Linked DNA regions of Homo sapiens. The protein of the gene in region 1 purifies or fractionates together with the protein of each later gene. This does not show direct contact. Each region holds a gene or a part of one and is shown in the gene's direction. Other genes may lie near its edges.

What was found.
Region 2: the proteins of ENTPD1 (region 1) and ANKRD52 purify together in Homo sapiens (affinity purification with mass spectrometry; one large-scale study listed by BioGRID and IntAct). This does not show direct contact.
Region 3: the proteins of ENTPD1 (region 1) and PACSIN2 purify together in Homo sapiens (affinity purification with mass spectrometry; one large-scale study listed by BioGRID and IntAct). This does not show direct contact.

Annotation. Positions count from the first base shown.
Region 1 is NC_000010.11:95,761,843-95,767,382, forward strand, and holds part of ENTPD1 (ectonucleoside triphosphate diphosphohydrolase 1), read left to right. Parts: intron 1-5,540.
Region 2 is NC_000012.12:56,250,847-56,255,458, reverse strand, and holds part of ANKRD52 (serine/threonine-protein phosphatase 6 regulatory ankyrin repeat subunit C), read left to right. Parts: intron 1-506; coding exon 507-594; intron 595-738; coding exon 739-881; intron 882-1,179; coding exon 1,180-1,392; intron 1,393-1,658; coding exon 1,659-1,737; intron 1,738-2,056; coding exon 2,057-2,171; intron 2,172-2,372; coding exon 2,373-2,455; intron 2,456-2,561; coding exon 2,562-2,679; intron 2,680-2,888; coding exon 2,889-2,957; intron 2,958-3,143; coding exon 3,144-3,284; intron 3,285-3,363; coding exon 3,364-3,444; intron 3,445-4,612. UniProt on the Homo sapiens protein: Putative regulatory subunit of protein phosphatase 6 (PP6) that may be involved in the recognition of phosphoprotein substrates.
Region 3 is NC_000022.11:42,874,612-42,879,223, reverse strand, and holds part of PACSIN2 (protein kinase C and casein kinase substrate in neurons protein 2), read left to right. Parts: intron 1-54; coding exon 55-176; intron 177-2,213; coding exon 2,214-2,336; intron 2,337-2,890; coding exon 2,891-3,087; intron 3,088-3,693; exon of another isoform or gene 3,694-4,612.

The DNA of each region.
Region 1 (5,540 bases):
GAGTCCCAGGGAGCTAGAGGTAGCAGGGACTCAGGGCTCTGAGACTGGCAACAGTGTGCCTGAGGCATTGTCTACGCTCTGCAGAAGAAAGGTGGGAATAATTCTAGGAGCAAAGCAAGGAAAGTGGGTGCAGAGAGAACCGATGGAATTTCTTTAGGCTTGAAAACTTGAGGGGGTTGTGAAGAGAAAATAAGTTGTTGGAGAAAAAAATCCAGAGTAGAGGTTGTCTAACATGTATGAAACATGCTGTTTTTGTTAGATCATCAAAGTGACTTTAGAGACCGACAGTGGCAGTACATGCCCTGTTACACAAAGAGGTGTTTCCTTCCATAACCACTGCTTGGTTTAAAAAAATTTAAAAAGAAGCAAAAAAAAAAAAAAAAAAGAAGTGTTTCCTTTTGATTCATAGGAAGGATGTAAAGCATTGCTTTATGTCCGTGAGGATACAAGTAACATAGCACATGCCCATTAAAGAAAACATGATACTATAGATTACAGTAGGGAAGAAAAACAATCACTTGTAATATTTTGGTGCCATTTCCTGGCAGTTTTTTTTTTTTTTTTTTACTATGCCTGGGTTGTTTCTCTCATTTGGCATTCACTTGAATAGGACCTTGAAAAGTTATGAGATGGCACCATGATCATTAGGCTATATATGCAGTTTTAAAGCCTGGTTTTACTGTAGCAGTGAAGCACATGTATTTTCCATTTTATAGCGTGGTCTTTGTTAGCGTAATTTTTATAGTCACATAGTTTATTTAACAGTTCTCCTGTTATTGAATATTGAGGATGTTTCCATTTCCAATAAATGTCTTTGTGCAGGAAGTTTTTTCCATATGTAGGATTGCACTCTGAGGACAGGATCCCAGAAATAGACTTACTAGATTGAAACTTGTTAATGTTTTTTAAAGTTCTTGATTACTGTTGCCAGGTTGCATTCCCAAAGGTTGGGCCCTTCATGCTCTCAAAAGCAGTTCCTGTTTTGTGGCATCCCTGACAGCTTTGGTGTTTTTGTTTTTAAATAATTTTATCAATTTTTAGATTGTTTTAGTTTGTATTTCTTAATTACAGTAAATTTGACATTTTTCACGATATACTTCTTTTGTATACTTTTTACATCCTTTTCCTGTTTATTATAATACTTATTTGGATTTGATGTTTTTAATCAACTTATGTGCATGCTTTATCATATAAAAGTATTCAAGTTTTCCTGCCATACTTATAATAGTTTTTCTGTATTTATTTATTTATTTATTTATTTTTGTTATGACGGGGTTTCACCATGTTGCCCAGGCTGGTCTCAAACTCCTGGACTCAAGTGATCTGCCTGCCTAGGCCTCCCAAAATGCTGGGATTACAGGTGTGAGCCACCACACCCGGCCTCTGATAGTTTTTCTGAATCTGTTCTTACTGTGAATAGATCCAACACATTTTTATATGTGGTGTCATCGTTTTCTAAATAGTTTGACATCACATTTTTATTCTCTGTAGCCCAGAATATTACTTCTAAAAGATTGTAAATGATTTTTATTTTTGTTTGCCATTATAATTAATTTTTCATTTTTTCCATGATGGTTAGAGAATATGGCTTTATAATTTCTGAGGTTTCCTTGTAACTAAGCATATGATGGGTTTGTGTAAATCTATGAACACTTGTGAAGAAGCTGTATGTTTTTAGGATATAAAATTGGATATTTATTAATCAATCCAGTCTTTTCAATTATATGGTAATTTATCTCCAACCATAATATTCTCTGATGGGTAGAGAGGAGCTTAGTCCTACCAACACCTTGATTTCAGTCCAGTGAAACTGATTTCAGCCTTCAGACTTCCAGAACTGTAAGAGAATAAATGTGTCTTGTTTTAAACCACTGAGTTTTTTTATGGTAATTTGTTATAGCAGGCAAAGAAAACGAATACGGTAAGTGTTTAATGAAAGGAAGTGCTGGTGGCTTTAGTTAGTTAACACACAGGCTTATAGTGGACATTGGTTCGCACACTATTCTAATCACCTTACAGATGTTAATTCAGTTCTCCAACCATCCAAGGAGGTTGGTATTATTTACTGTTAAATAACTCAATTGTTAAAGTCTCTCAGTTGGTAAGTGTTGAAGTTGAGATTCAAATCCATAGTTGTTGATCTTATTATCTGGAGACACAATTCACATATCATACGATTCACCAACTTAAAGTCGACAATTCAGTGGTTTTAGTATATTCACAGGATTGTGTACCACCACCACAATCAATTTTGGAACATTTTATCACCCTGAAAAGAAACCTCATACCTATTAATGGGCACTCCCCATTTCCTCCCTACATGGCCCCCACCGTTCTGAGTCCTAGGAAAACACCAATCTACTTTCTGTCCCCACAGTTTTGCCAATTCTGGACATTCATTTCATAGCATATATCCCATTGAATGTATATACCACATTTTATTCATCAGTTGATGAATATTTGGATTGTTTTTACTTTTTGACATTATGAATAATGCTGCTGTGAGCATTCATGGACAAGTGTTGGTGTGGACTTGTTTTTAATTTCTTTTGGTTATATACCTAGGAGCAAAATTGCTGGGTCACTTGTATGTCTATGTTTAACCATTTGATGAACTGCCAGACTGTTTTCCAAAGTAGCTGGACCATTTACATTTCCACCAGCAATATATGGTGATTCCAATTTCTCCACATCCTTGCCAACACTTTTTATTCCCTATCTTTTATTATAGCCTTCCTAATGAGTGTGAAGTAGTATCTCATTGAGGTTTTGATTTGTATTTCCCTGATGGCTGATGGTTTTGAAAATCTATTCATGTGTTTAGTGGGCATTTGTGGATCTTTTTTGGAAAAATGCCTGTTCAGATCCTTTGCCCATTTTTTTTTTTTTTTTTTTTTGAGGTGGAGTTTTGCTCTTGTTGCCCAGGCTGGAGTGTGATGGCGTGATTTTGGCTCACTGCAACCTCCACCTCCTGAGTTCAAGCAGTTCTCCTGCCTCAGCCTCCGGAGTAGCTGGGATTACAGGCATGTGCCACCACACCCGGCTAATTTTGTATTTTTAGTAGAGACGGGCTTTCACCATGTTGGCCAGGCTGGTCTCGAACTCCTGACCTCAGGTGATCCACCTGCCTCGGCCTCCCAAAGTGCTGGGATTACAGGCGTGAGCCACCACGCCTGGCCTCTTTGCCCATTTTTTAAATGGGTTTACCTTTTTATGATTGAGTTGCAATGATTCCTTATATATTCCCTTTTCAGATATATGATTTCCAAAAATTTTCTCCCATTCTGTGGGTTGTCTTTTCACTTTCTTGATAGTGTTGTTTGCAGCACAAAATTTAAAAGTTTTAAATTTTGATGATATTCAATCTATAGTTTCTTTGGTTCTTATGGTTTTGTTGTCCTATCTAAGAAACTATTGCCTAATCCAAAGTCATGAAGATATACATCTATATTTTCTTCAAAGAGCTACATAGTTTTAGCCCTTGCATTTAGGTTTTTAATCCACTTTGAGTTAGTTTTTGTATATGTTATGAGGTAGGGGCCAAACTTCATGTTTTTGTGTGTGAATATCTAGTTGTTCCAGCACCATTTGTTGAAAAGATTATTATTTTCTCCAGTGAATTGTTTTGGCACCCTGTTGAAAATCAATTTCCCATAAGTGTGAGCGTTTTTTTCTAGACTCTCAGTTATATTCCATTTCTTTATATATCTAGCCCTATGTCAATTCCACATTTCTTGATACTACAGCTTGGTAGTAAGTTTTGAAATCAGGCAGTGTGAGTCCTCCAATTTCATTTTATTTTTTAAATATTGTTTGGGGTATTATGGGTCCCATTAACTTCCATATGAATTTTAAGATCAGGTTGTCAACTTCTGCAAGGAAGCCAGCTGAGATTTTGATAAGATTGCATCAACTGTAAATCTATTTAGAGAATATTGCCATCTTAAAAATATTAAATCTTCTAATCCATGAACATATGATGTCTTTCTGTGTATGTAGGTCTTACTTAATTTCCTTAAGTAATATTTTGTAGTTTTCAGAGTGTAACTTTTGTATTTCTTTTGTTAAATTTGTTCCTAAGTATGATTTTCTTTTTGATGCTATTATAAATATAATTGTTTTAAAATTTCATTTTTGGTTTGTTATCATAGATTTACTTTTTTTGTTGTTGTATTAATTTTTTTATTTTAAAATGACTTCAAAATTACAGAAAAGTTACAAGAACAATTCAAAGAGCATTTCACAAGTATTCACCAATTTAAAAAATTCTGCCACATTTATCATTCTCTCTTCCCTTTTATATCTCTCCCACACACAACAGTCACATATAGTATTGTTCCTGAACCATTTGAGAATAAGTTGTATATATTATGTTCCTTTACCCCTAAATATTTCAGTATGTATTTCCTAAGAACAAAGATTTTCTCTTATATAACCACAGTACAGTAGTCAAACTCAGGAAATCTAACACTGATAGAATACTTTCAATTGTAGTCCATAATCAAATTTTGTTAATTGGTCAAACAATTGTTATCATAGATTTACTTTTAACCTCAATTACGCTCAATACTATATTCCTCATAAGTTCTTAGATTCTCTAACAGTGCTTCAAATAATAATGACTTCATGCTCTTAATGCAATTAAGATTCATTTAATTCAATACAATTGTCTGTTGTCTATTTACCTCTACTCATATTTTGTATGTTTTTGCAGTTCATATTTTGATAAAATATTGAAATAACTCTTTTTATCTACTTTTTTAGTCCTAAATTCTGTTCCCCCTTCTCATTTGGCTGATATATTTTGTCCATCTTTATTTTTAATCTTTCTAAATCCAATTTGATTCTCTGTTTTAATAAAGGAATGTAAACAGTTCACATTTATTTTATCTGCCTTTTCTCATTTTATTCTCTTTAGTGTTTAATGTTTTTTTCTGTTATGCTTTTTGCTATACAGACTCTGGACTTTGTTATTTGTTTTTATATTTCCACAAAGCTGTGAATAACGGACATCTTACTTTTAATTGTACTTGTAGCAATCTTTTTTTTTTTTTTGAGGCAGGGTCTTGCTCTGTCACCTAGGCTGGAGTGCAGTAGCATAATCATAGCTCAATGTAACCTTGAACTCCTGGGCTCAGGTGATCCTCCTGCCTCAGCCTTCTGAGTAGCTAGGGCTACAGGCGTGCACCACCATACCCAGCTGATTTTTTATTTTTTGTAGAAACAGGGTCTTGTTATGTTGCCCAGGCTGTGGAAATAAAAGAAAAGCATTCCATCCTGGCTAACATGGTGAAACCCCATCTCTACTAAAAATACAAAAAAAATTAGCCGGGCGTGGTGGTGGGCGCCTATAGTCCCAGCTACTCGGGAGGCTGAGGCAGGAGAATGGTGTGAACCTGGGAGGCAGAGCTTCAGTGAGCCGAGATCATACCACTGCACTCCAGCCTGGGAGACAGAGCGAGACTCCATCTCAAAAAAAAAAAAAAAAAAAGAAAGAAAAAAGGAAAGCAAAACATTCCTGAGCTTAAATTTATCTTAAT
Region 2 (4,612 bases), on another chromosome or scaffold:
CAGCACTTTGGGAGGCGAAGGCGGGTGGATCATGAGATCAGGAGATCGAGATCATCCTGGCTAACATGGTGAAACCCTGTCTCTACTAAAAATACAAAAAATTAGCCGGGTGTGGTGGCGGCCGCCTGTAGTCCCAGCTACTCGGGAGACTGAGGCAGGAGAATGGCGTGAACCCGGGAGGCGGAGCTTGCAATGAGCCGAAATCATGCCACTGAACTCCAGCCTGGGTAACAGAGCGAGACTGTCTCAAAAAAAAAAAAAAAAAGAGTTTAAGAACCACCAGATCACCTGAAGAGACTCTCTTGTTTCCCTTAAAGTTCCAAATCTCTCCAGTATCTCCTCCTTAGTGCCTGCTTCTGCTGTTCCCTCGAGTCCTCCAGGTTGTTTTGCTCATGGAAAAAGGCATTAGGCTGCCTCAGCCTTTTCAGGAGATGAGGCCTCTGCTCTTAGGTAGGTTGAGGGCACGAATCTAGCTCTGAACAGGTGTCTTTCATATCCTGATGCAGACGGTGAACCTGCTCCTCAACAAGGGAGCCAGCCTGAATGTCTGTGACAAAAAGGAGCGGCAGCCTCTGCATTGGGCAGCTTTTCTAGGTGAGAGAGAATACACGGGAAAATCAGAAATTTGACATTTAGGATTCCTAGGGCAGGGATGTGGGGTTGCAGCCTTTGAAGAGAGGAGTGTAGGGTCTTAGAGTTTACCTTCTACTTCCTTTAGAGTGTCTTCTCTTTTCTCAGGGCACTTGGAGGTCCTAAAACTGCTGGTGGCACGGGGAGCAGACCTCGGCTGCAAGGACCGCAAGGGCTATGGGCTGCTCCATACAGCTGCTGCCAGTGGCCAGATTGAAGTGGTGAAGTACCTGCTTCGGATGGGAGCGGAGGTCAGGGCTTTGAGCTCTGGGGTTGGGAACTATGGGCAGCAAGTAGGAGATTATAGTCTGTTACGGAGATATGAGGTATTGGGATGTTGGTATAGTTTTGGGAAGTTGGAAGGACGTGGTAGAGAGGGTCTGAATAATGCTTACCTTAGCCATAGTGCCCTTAGTACCTTAGTACCTTGGGTCATAAACCCGAGAGGAAATGAGGCAGTCGTTGGATTTCTGGGATCTGGAGGCTACATGTGCTGGCTTCTACTTTGTTTAAACTGATACCACCTTACTCTCACCCCTGAATATCCAGATCGATGAACCCAATGCTTTTGGAAACACAGCTTTGCACATCGCCTGCTACCTGGGCCAGGATGCTGTGGCTATTGAGCTGGTGAATGCCGGAGCCAATGTCAACCAGCCGAATGACAAGGGCTTCACGCCACTGCATGTGGCTGCAGTCTCCACCAATGGCGCTCTCTGCTTGGAGCTACTGGTTAATAATGGGGCTGACGTCAACTACCAGGTGCCTGAAGGGATAAGGCTTAGACCAGTGGGGAGCGAAACTTGGATCTAGGGGTCCTGACTGTATCTGGATAGCTCTCTTGGGGAATTATCCACTTGCTTCCTAGGGTAATCAGACCTTGCCAGGGACTCAGGAAAGAGTGGGCTAAGAAGGTGCCATATGACCCTTTTGTCCTTAGAGATATGTCCTTGGAAGGGAGGTAGGGCATTCTCTGTGCTTTGCACTGGAAAAAAAAACAAAAACAAAAACCCACCATGTTTCCACAGAGCAAAGAAGGGAAAAGTCCTCTGCACATGGCTGCAATCCATGGCCGTTTCACACGCTCCCAGATCCTCATCCAGAATGGTATGGACCTGGGAGACTTTGTGCTCTCATCCCCTCCTCCCCCAAGGAACTCATTTCTAGAATCTAGGGAGGTTCCTAACTTCCTTCTCCTGCCCTCTTCCAGTAGGATAGGCCCTTGGAACTCTGACCAAGGGACCTGTGGAAATGGCCCTGCTCTGCCCTGCCCAGTCTCCTAAGGCCTAGAAACAGGATAAAATATGTAGAATCCTGGGCCTGGCACCTGATGCATACATAGTAGGCACTCAAATCATGGCTAGCTCGCGAAAGTGGTCTTAAGCCTGAGGTCTGCCTGAGCTTGTGTGTGTGCATCCCCTCACAGGCAGCGAGATTGATTGTGCCGACAAATTTGGGAACACGCCACTGCATGTGGCTGCTCGATATGGACACGAGCTGCTCATCAGCACCCTCATGACCAATGGCGCAGATACCGCCCGGTGAGTCAGGGCCCCGACTCCACTTCTGGGCTGCCCAGATCTGCACAGACTGCTCACATCAACCATGGAGGCACAGATAAGCTTGCCAAAGGGCACCTTGGAGAACCTCCTACCCTGACTCTAGGGTGGTGGTAGGTCACAGAAGAGGTCTTACTTGGTCCCTCCTTGACCCAAGGACTGAGTCCCTCAACTTCTCTCTAGGCGTGGCATCCATGACATGTTCCCCCTGCACTTAGCTGTTCTCTTTGGATTCTCTGACTGTTGTCGTAAGCTTCTTTCCTCAGGTATGTGCTGATGGGCTGGGGATTGGCAGGTGTATAGGAGAGCAAAGGCCTTTCCCTCCCTGCTGAACACTCTCAGATGTGACCTGTGGCTGTTCTGTGCCTCCAGGTCAGTTGTACAGCATTGTGTCTTCACTCAGCAATGAGCATGTGCTTTCAGCTGGGTTTGACATCAATACACCTGACAACCTTGGCCGTACCTGTCTTCATGCTGCTGCTTCCGGAGGGTGAGTTCTCTTTCTCTCTCCCATGCTTTGAGCAGGGAGCTGGGCAAAGGTCTGGGCCCCTCATTCTTGCCTGCCCAGATCTATTCCCCCTCTCACAATGAAAGCAGTCACAGCAGAAAGGGCTTGCTAGTCCCATCCTTCCTTAGCCCCACCCTGGGCCTGTGGCTTCCCTTTGAGGCTGTAACTCTCTTAACACATCTTTCTTTTAGGAATGTTGAATGTCTTAATTTGCTGTTGAGCAGTGGAGCTGACTTGAGGAGGAGGGACAAATTTGGCAGGTATGCTAATATGCAGGGGTAAACATAGGGAATATCTGATTAGAGAAACAAATGGTAGAGGGAGGAAGGGTTTAGATTGGAGACTTAAATAAGGAGAATGTTACAAAGCAGCATTTGGCTGCACATCTGATTGCATTCGTATCTGTCTCTGATTCTCTTCCCCACCCTCCTTCACTTCTTCCCCAGGACCCCACTGCACTATGCAGCTGCTAACGGTAGCTACCAGTGTGCAGTAACATTGGTGACTGCTGGGGCAGGTGTCAACGAGGCCGACTGTAAAGGCTGCTCTCCCCTCCACTACGCTGCCGCTTCTGACACTTACAGGAGGTGAGGCTACCAGTCTGGTCCTTCTCAGCCCCATTCACCTCCCTGAGCCTGGCCCTAACTTTCTCTCTCTCTTCCCCAGAGCGGAACCCCATACACCTTCCAGCCATGATGCCGAAGAGGACGAGCCACTGAAGGAGTCCCGCAGGAAGGAGGCCTTCTTGTGAGTAGCAGAGAGGGCCCCTGGGATGTGCTTTCCCCAACCCATGCAAGCTCTGGCCCTACTGTCCTCCTACCTAATCTGAACCTCTACCCTATACTGCTGCTGTCCTGCCGGTCAGCCAGCAGTGTGTCTTGAGCCCTCTGGGTGTAGTCCATAGTGGGCAAAGACAAAAGTATGAGATTGAAGCTCAGGAGCTTCAGGGGGAAAAAAAAACCCAAAAGTATGAGACATAGTTCCTTCCCTAAAGGAATGGATTTTTTTTTTTTTTTTTTTTTTGGAGACAGAGTCTCACTCTGTTGCCCAGGCTGGAATGCAGTGGTGTGATCTCAGCTCACCGCGCCCGGCTGGTCTTCTTGAGAGGATTAGAAAAGCTAAATGTACAAAATAATTTGTTTATTCCACAAGCATTAATTAAATATTTACTTACTAGGTTCCAAGTACTGTGCTAGATACTAAGGATAAAAGATGAGGCTGGGCGTAGTGGCTCAAGCTTGTAATCCTAGCACTTAGGGAGGCTGAGGTAGGCAGATCACCTGAGGTTAGGAGTTCAAGACCAGCTTGACCAACATGGTGAAACCCCGTCTCTACTAAAAATACAAAAAATTAACCAGGTGTGGTGGCACACGCCTATAATCCCAGCTACTCAGGAGGCCGAGGCAGGAGAATTGCTTGAACCAGGGAGGTGGAGGTTGTAGTGAGCCGAGATCACGCCACTGCACTCCAGCCTGGGCAACCGAACAAGACTCTGTCTCAAAAAAATTAAAATTAAAAATAGGCCGGGTGTGGTGGTTCACGCCTATAATCCCAGCACTTTGGGAGGCCGAGGCAGGCAGATCATCTGAGGTCAGGAGTTCGAGACCAGCCTGGCCAACGTGGTGAAACCCCGTCTCTACTAAAAATATAAAAATTAGCTGGTCATGTTGGCAGGCACCTGTAATCCCAGCTACTCGGGTGGCTAAGGCAGGAGAATCACTTGAACCAGGGAGGTGGAGGTTGCAGTGAGTCAAGATCACACTAATCCACTCCAACCTGGGCGACAGAGTGAGACTCTGTCTCCAAAAAAACAAATAAATAAATAAAATTAAATAAAAATTTAAAAAGGATGAATTGTCCCAAATTTCTGTCTTTCGAAAGCTAATAATCTATTGGGAAAGATAAATAAAAGGAC
Region 3 (4,612 bases), on another chromosome or scaffold:
GCTTCCAGCAAGTAGTGAACCTTTGGTTTCTCTCCCTCGGCACCTGTTGCCTAGGAGTGGTCCGCAGACCTGAATCGAACCCTCAGCCGGAGAGAGAAGAAGAAGGCCACTGACGGCGTCACCCTGACGGGCATCAACCAGACAGGCGACCAGTCTCTGCCGAGTAAGCCCAGCAGGTGAGTGGGCGCCACCTCCATCCAAAAGAGGCCGTTCCATGGTGGGGGCCCTGGGCAATCTGCATGGTCCAGGGCAGCCCCGGCCTGGACACCTGGGAGGTTCCTGGGCTCCTGAGCTCTGTGGGCCGTGGCCCAGCCTGGACACCTGGGAGGTTCCTGGGCTCCTGAGCTCTGTGGGCCGTGGCCCAGGGGCATCTCCAGGGAAGGTCGTCTTCCTGCCTGGTGCCAGAGCTGCTGACAGATCCAGAGAGGGAGGCTTGGCCCTGAGCTTCAGACCTGAGTGGGGAGGAGCTGATGACAGGGCTGGCATTCATGTCCCCAGGGATAGCACCGCCCTGCCCGGACACTGGTGGAGGTGCCACCCTGGTTCCCTCAGGCAGCTGAGGTCCTGCCGAGGTTCATGCTCACTCTGTATTGTGTGCAGGCGCCAGTCGAGGGAGGGACAGGAGAGGACTGCCAGGCATCTCCTTTCCAAATTACCTCTTCACTAGGAGCATTGGTTATTTCTGACTTAGTCATTGGCTGAAAATGAGAGATATAAGGGTGGCACTGTGGTCATTAGAACCTTCTGGAAAGTGTGTGCTAGAGGAGGTCTTCCTATAGGACCTGCCCACAGGCCTCCATGTGACACTCAGTAATAGTCATTTCATACGGGGGCTTCCTAAGAAGGCTTAGCCCAGGTTCCCTTGGCCTTCCTGCAGCCCCAGGCACTGAAGCCCCCACCCAGGCTCCCCAGCAGGTGTGGCTGTCGTCATTCCGCTGCTTTGCACGCTGTCTGGGCAGGTGGGCTCGGCAGTAAGTGCCTGTCCCAGGGATCAGGCCAGCACCTGTATGCTTGGGGGTGGGAATGGGAAAGAAGAAACACTGCCTCAGAGGAGACCCTGGGGGCCCTGGGCTGGCCAGGGTTGCTGCACAATCCAGCCGCCCCCACCAGTGCCGTCTCACAACAGTCTGCTAGAGAAAGGTGCCAAGGAGGGAGGAGGGCCGGTGAGCTCAGACATGTGGCCTGGATATTGGCCTCCAGCAGGCCTAGGTCAAGTACCACTTGCCAGGCTGAAGTGGATGAGGCAGTTACTGGCCACTCAGGATCACCCTGGTGGCATTGGAGGCATGTCCTCGCCTCCCTTCCTTGGTTCTGGGGTGGTGGGTGCTCAGGCTGAGCAGTCCATCCAGTGCTTTGGGGGCCTGTGCCCTGAGGCCCTGGTCTTGGAAGTAGAAGGTGCTGCTGGCCAGGGTAGCCCGGTCCTAGGATCAGTTACTTGGTGGGGTGCCAGGGCCCTTGGTGCCTGTCTGATTGGATTGCTTGATGGTCTGCCTGTGGTCTTCGTAGTGTGTAACTCAGCTCCCGGCTCCCAGCCCTCAGGCAGAGCTTGGCCCAGATCTCTCTGGTTCCCACACTGGGCCTGGCAAACAGTAGGCAGTTGCACGACTGGATTTTCCCTCTGGAGCACCAAAGGAATCTTCTTTCTATCTAGAAAAGACGGTGCCGCAGGCCCTGGCCCTGATTTTGGAGGCTTCAGCTCCACAGAGCAGAAGAGCGAGCCCTGAACCCCTTAGTAGTCAGGAGGAGGCCGTGTGGGCTGAAGAGCTCAGAGCCCTCTCCCACTCATCCATGGGAGCCGGCCCCTCCCACACTGTCACTCTCAGAGGAGACCCTGAGGGGCTTTTTGACCCCCCCAGCTCACATTGGTGGGAGTCAGGACAGAGGAGAAGCCCTGAACCTGGAAACGACTTTTGCTCCAGCTGTGGCTTGTCACCCGCCCCTGGGCCACCCCAGGGCCCCTGTTCTGGACGGACTGTCTCCAGGTGCAAGGAAGGAAAAGGGAAACCAAGTCCTCTCCTAGGCTCCTGGACCGTGTTTCACAGCTGAAGTATTGCCCGCATTCTGCCATAGTAACCTTTCTGTTGAAACACCACGGTCCCCTCCGGTCACAGGAGGAGCTGATTTGTCTCTTGAGATCCTGCAGCTAGGAGTTGCCAGGACCCTCACGGGCCCCTGCAGAGCTGGGATCCCCTGAAAGCTCTCTCTCTCCATAGCACCCTTAATGTCCCGAGCAACCCCGCCCAGTCTGCGCAGTCACAGTCCAGCTACAACCCCTTCGAGGATGAGGACGACACGGGCAGCACCGTCAGTGAGAAGGACGACACTAAGGCCAAAAAGTTGGTGAACAAATGCTTCCTCTGCTCCCACCGCGCTCACTCTGTCTCTCTTCCTCTCTCTCTGTCCAGGGGTCTCACCCCTCGGCACTCGGCAATGCACGGAGCTCTGCAGGAAGTGGGCACCTGGCGTGCCGCACCCTGGCCCACTACCTGCTCTCTGGCACAGGCTCTCTGGCACCCCCATTCCTCGGGGAGGGCACAGCTAACAATCTTAAGTTGCTTTTTCTCTGTCCTCTGTTAACCCTTCAAGGCCCTAGCAGCACCATGACAGGAAAACAGACAACGCGCAGTCTGTGCTGGGGACTAGAGAGTGAGGCCCCAGGTTGGCCTCTGCTGTGGGCATCTCCAGCCGCCTGCCCCTGGAAAGCCTGTTGATGGCTCAGGATGAGTGTGGATGGCATGAACTCACACTAGCACTGGCTCCACCTGTGCTCCTTCGGAAGGAGCCCTCAGCCCTGAGCCCCAAGGCTCCAGTGCCCTCCCCTTGCGGGGCGGGGGCCTCACACCCTCTGCCGCCCTGTGCTGAGGGCCCTGTGGCCTCCCCTTTCTTGCAGTGTGAGCAGCTACGAGAAGACCCAGAGCTATCCCACCGACTGGTCAGACGATGAGTCTAACAACCCCTTCTCCTCCACGGATGCCAATGGGGACTCGAATCCATTCGACGACGACGCCACCTCGGGGACGGAAGTGCGAGTCCGGGCCCTGTATGACTATGAGGGGCAGGAGCATGATGAGCTGAGCTTCAAGGCTGGTAGGTGGGCTCCCCCAGCATCCAGGGGAGGAGGGCTTCCAACCTGCAGGCTGTGGGCGGTCTTTTTTGTTTTTTAAGTCTGGAAAAGTTCTTGCTAGTTTCACTTGTGAGTCACTGCAGGCCCTTCCCCAGTGCCCTGGCTTCATTGTCAAAAGCAGCCAATTGGCTGGATGTGGTGGCTCATGCCTATAGTCCCAGAGCTTTGGGAGGCCGAGGTGGAAGGATCGCTTGAGCCCAGGAGTATGAGACCAACCTGGGCAAAATGGCAAAACCTGTCTCTACAAAAAATACAAAAAATTAGGCCAGGCATGGTGGCTCACGCCTGTAATCCCAGCACCTTTGGGAGGCCAAGGCAGGCAGATCACTTGAGGTCAGGAGTTCGAGCCCAGCCTAACCAACATGGTGAAACCCTGTCTCTACTAAAAATACAAAAATGAGCCAGGCGTGTGGCGGGGCATCTATAATCACAGTTACTCAGGAGGCTGCGGCAGGAGAATCACTTGAACCTGGGAGGTGGAGGTTGCAGTGAGCCAAGGTCACACCACTGTACCCCAGGCTGGGTGACAGAGCAAGACTTTGTGTCAAAAAAAAAAAATTAGCTGGGCTAATTTTAGTGGCACATGCCTGTAGTCCCAGCTCTCTGGGAGGCTGAGGTGGGAGGATCACCTGAGCCCAGTAGATTGAGGTTGCAATGAATCATGATTGTACCACTATACTCCAACCTGGACAACAGAGCGAGACCCTGTCGCAAACAAACAAACAAATAAATAACCTGGGCAACAGAGCGAGATCCTGTCTCAAATAAATAAACAAACAAAAGTAGCAGATTAGCTGGGCGTGGTGTTGCATACCTATAGTCCCAGCTGCTTGGGAGGCTGAGGCAGAGGATCACTTAAACCCAAGAGGATACAGTGAGCCATGTTCATACCACGTACTCTAGCCTAGAAGAGAGAGCAAGACCCCATCTCTTAAAAAAAAAAAAAAGTAGGCTGGGCATGGTGGCTCACGCCTGTAATCCCAGCACTTTGGGAGGCCGAGGCACACAGATCACGAGGTCAGGAGATTGAGACCATCCTGGCTAAGAGTGTGAAACCCCGTCTCTACTAAAAATACAAAAAATTAGCCGGGCGTGGTGGCAGCCGCCTGTAGTCCCAGCTACTCGGGAGGCTGACGCAGGAAAATTGCTTGAACCCGGGAGGCGGAGCTTGCAGTGAGCCGAGATTGCGCCACTGCACTCCAGCCTGGGCGACAGAGCAAAACTCTTTTTCAAAAAAAAAAAAAAAAGCGGATGCCCAATGCCAAGACTCAGAAATAGTGAGGTGCTGCCAAGCCAGTGCCTGGACTCCTCACCTTGCTGGGCCAAGGCTGTGAATTGCAGGGCACTGGCTAGTCACACAGAAGGGCATCTGGAGAAGCTGTTGGCCAGGACCACCAGGTTCCCCCATATGTAGTCTGGGAGCTGCTAGCCCCGCAGGGCCATGAGAGAAGCCTTTCTCTAGGGGTCCCCAACTGCCAGAGAAGCCCT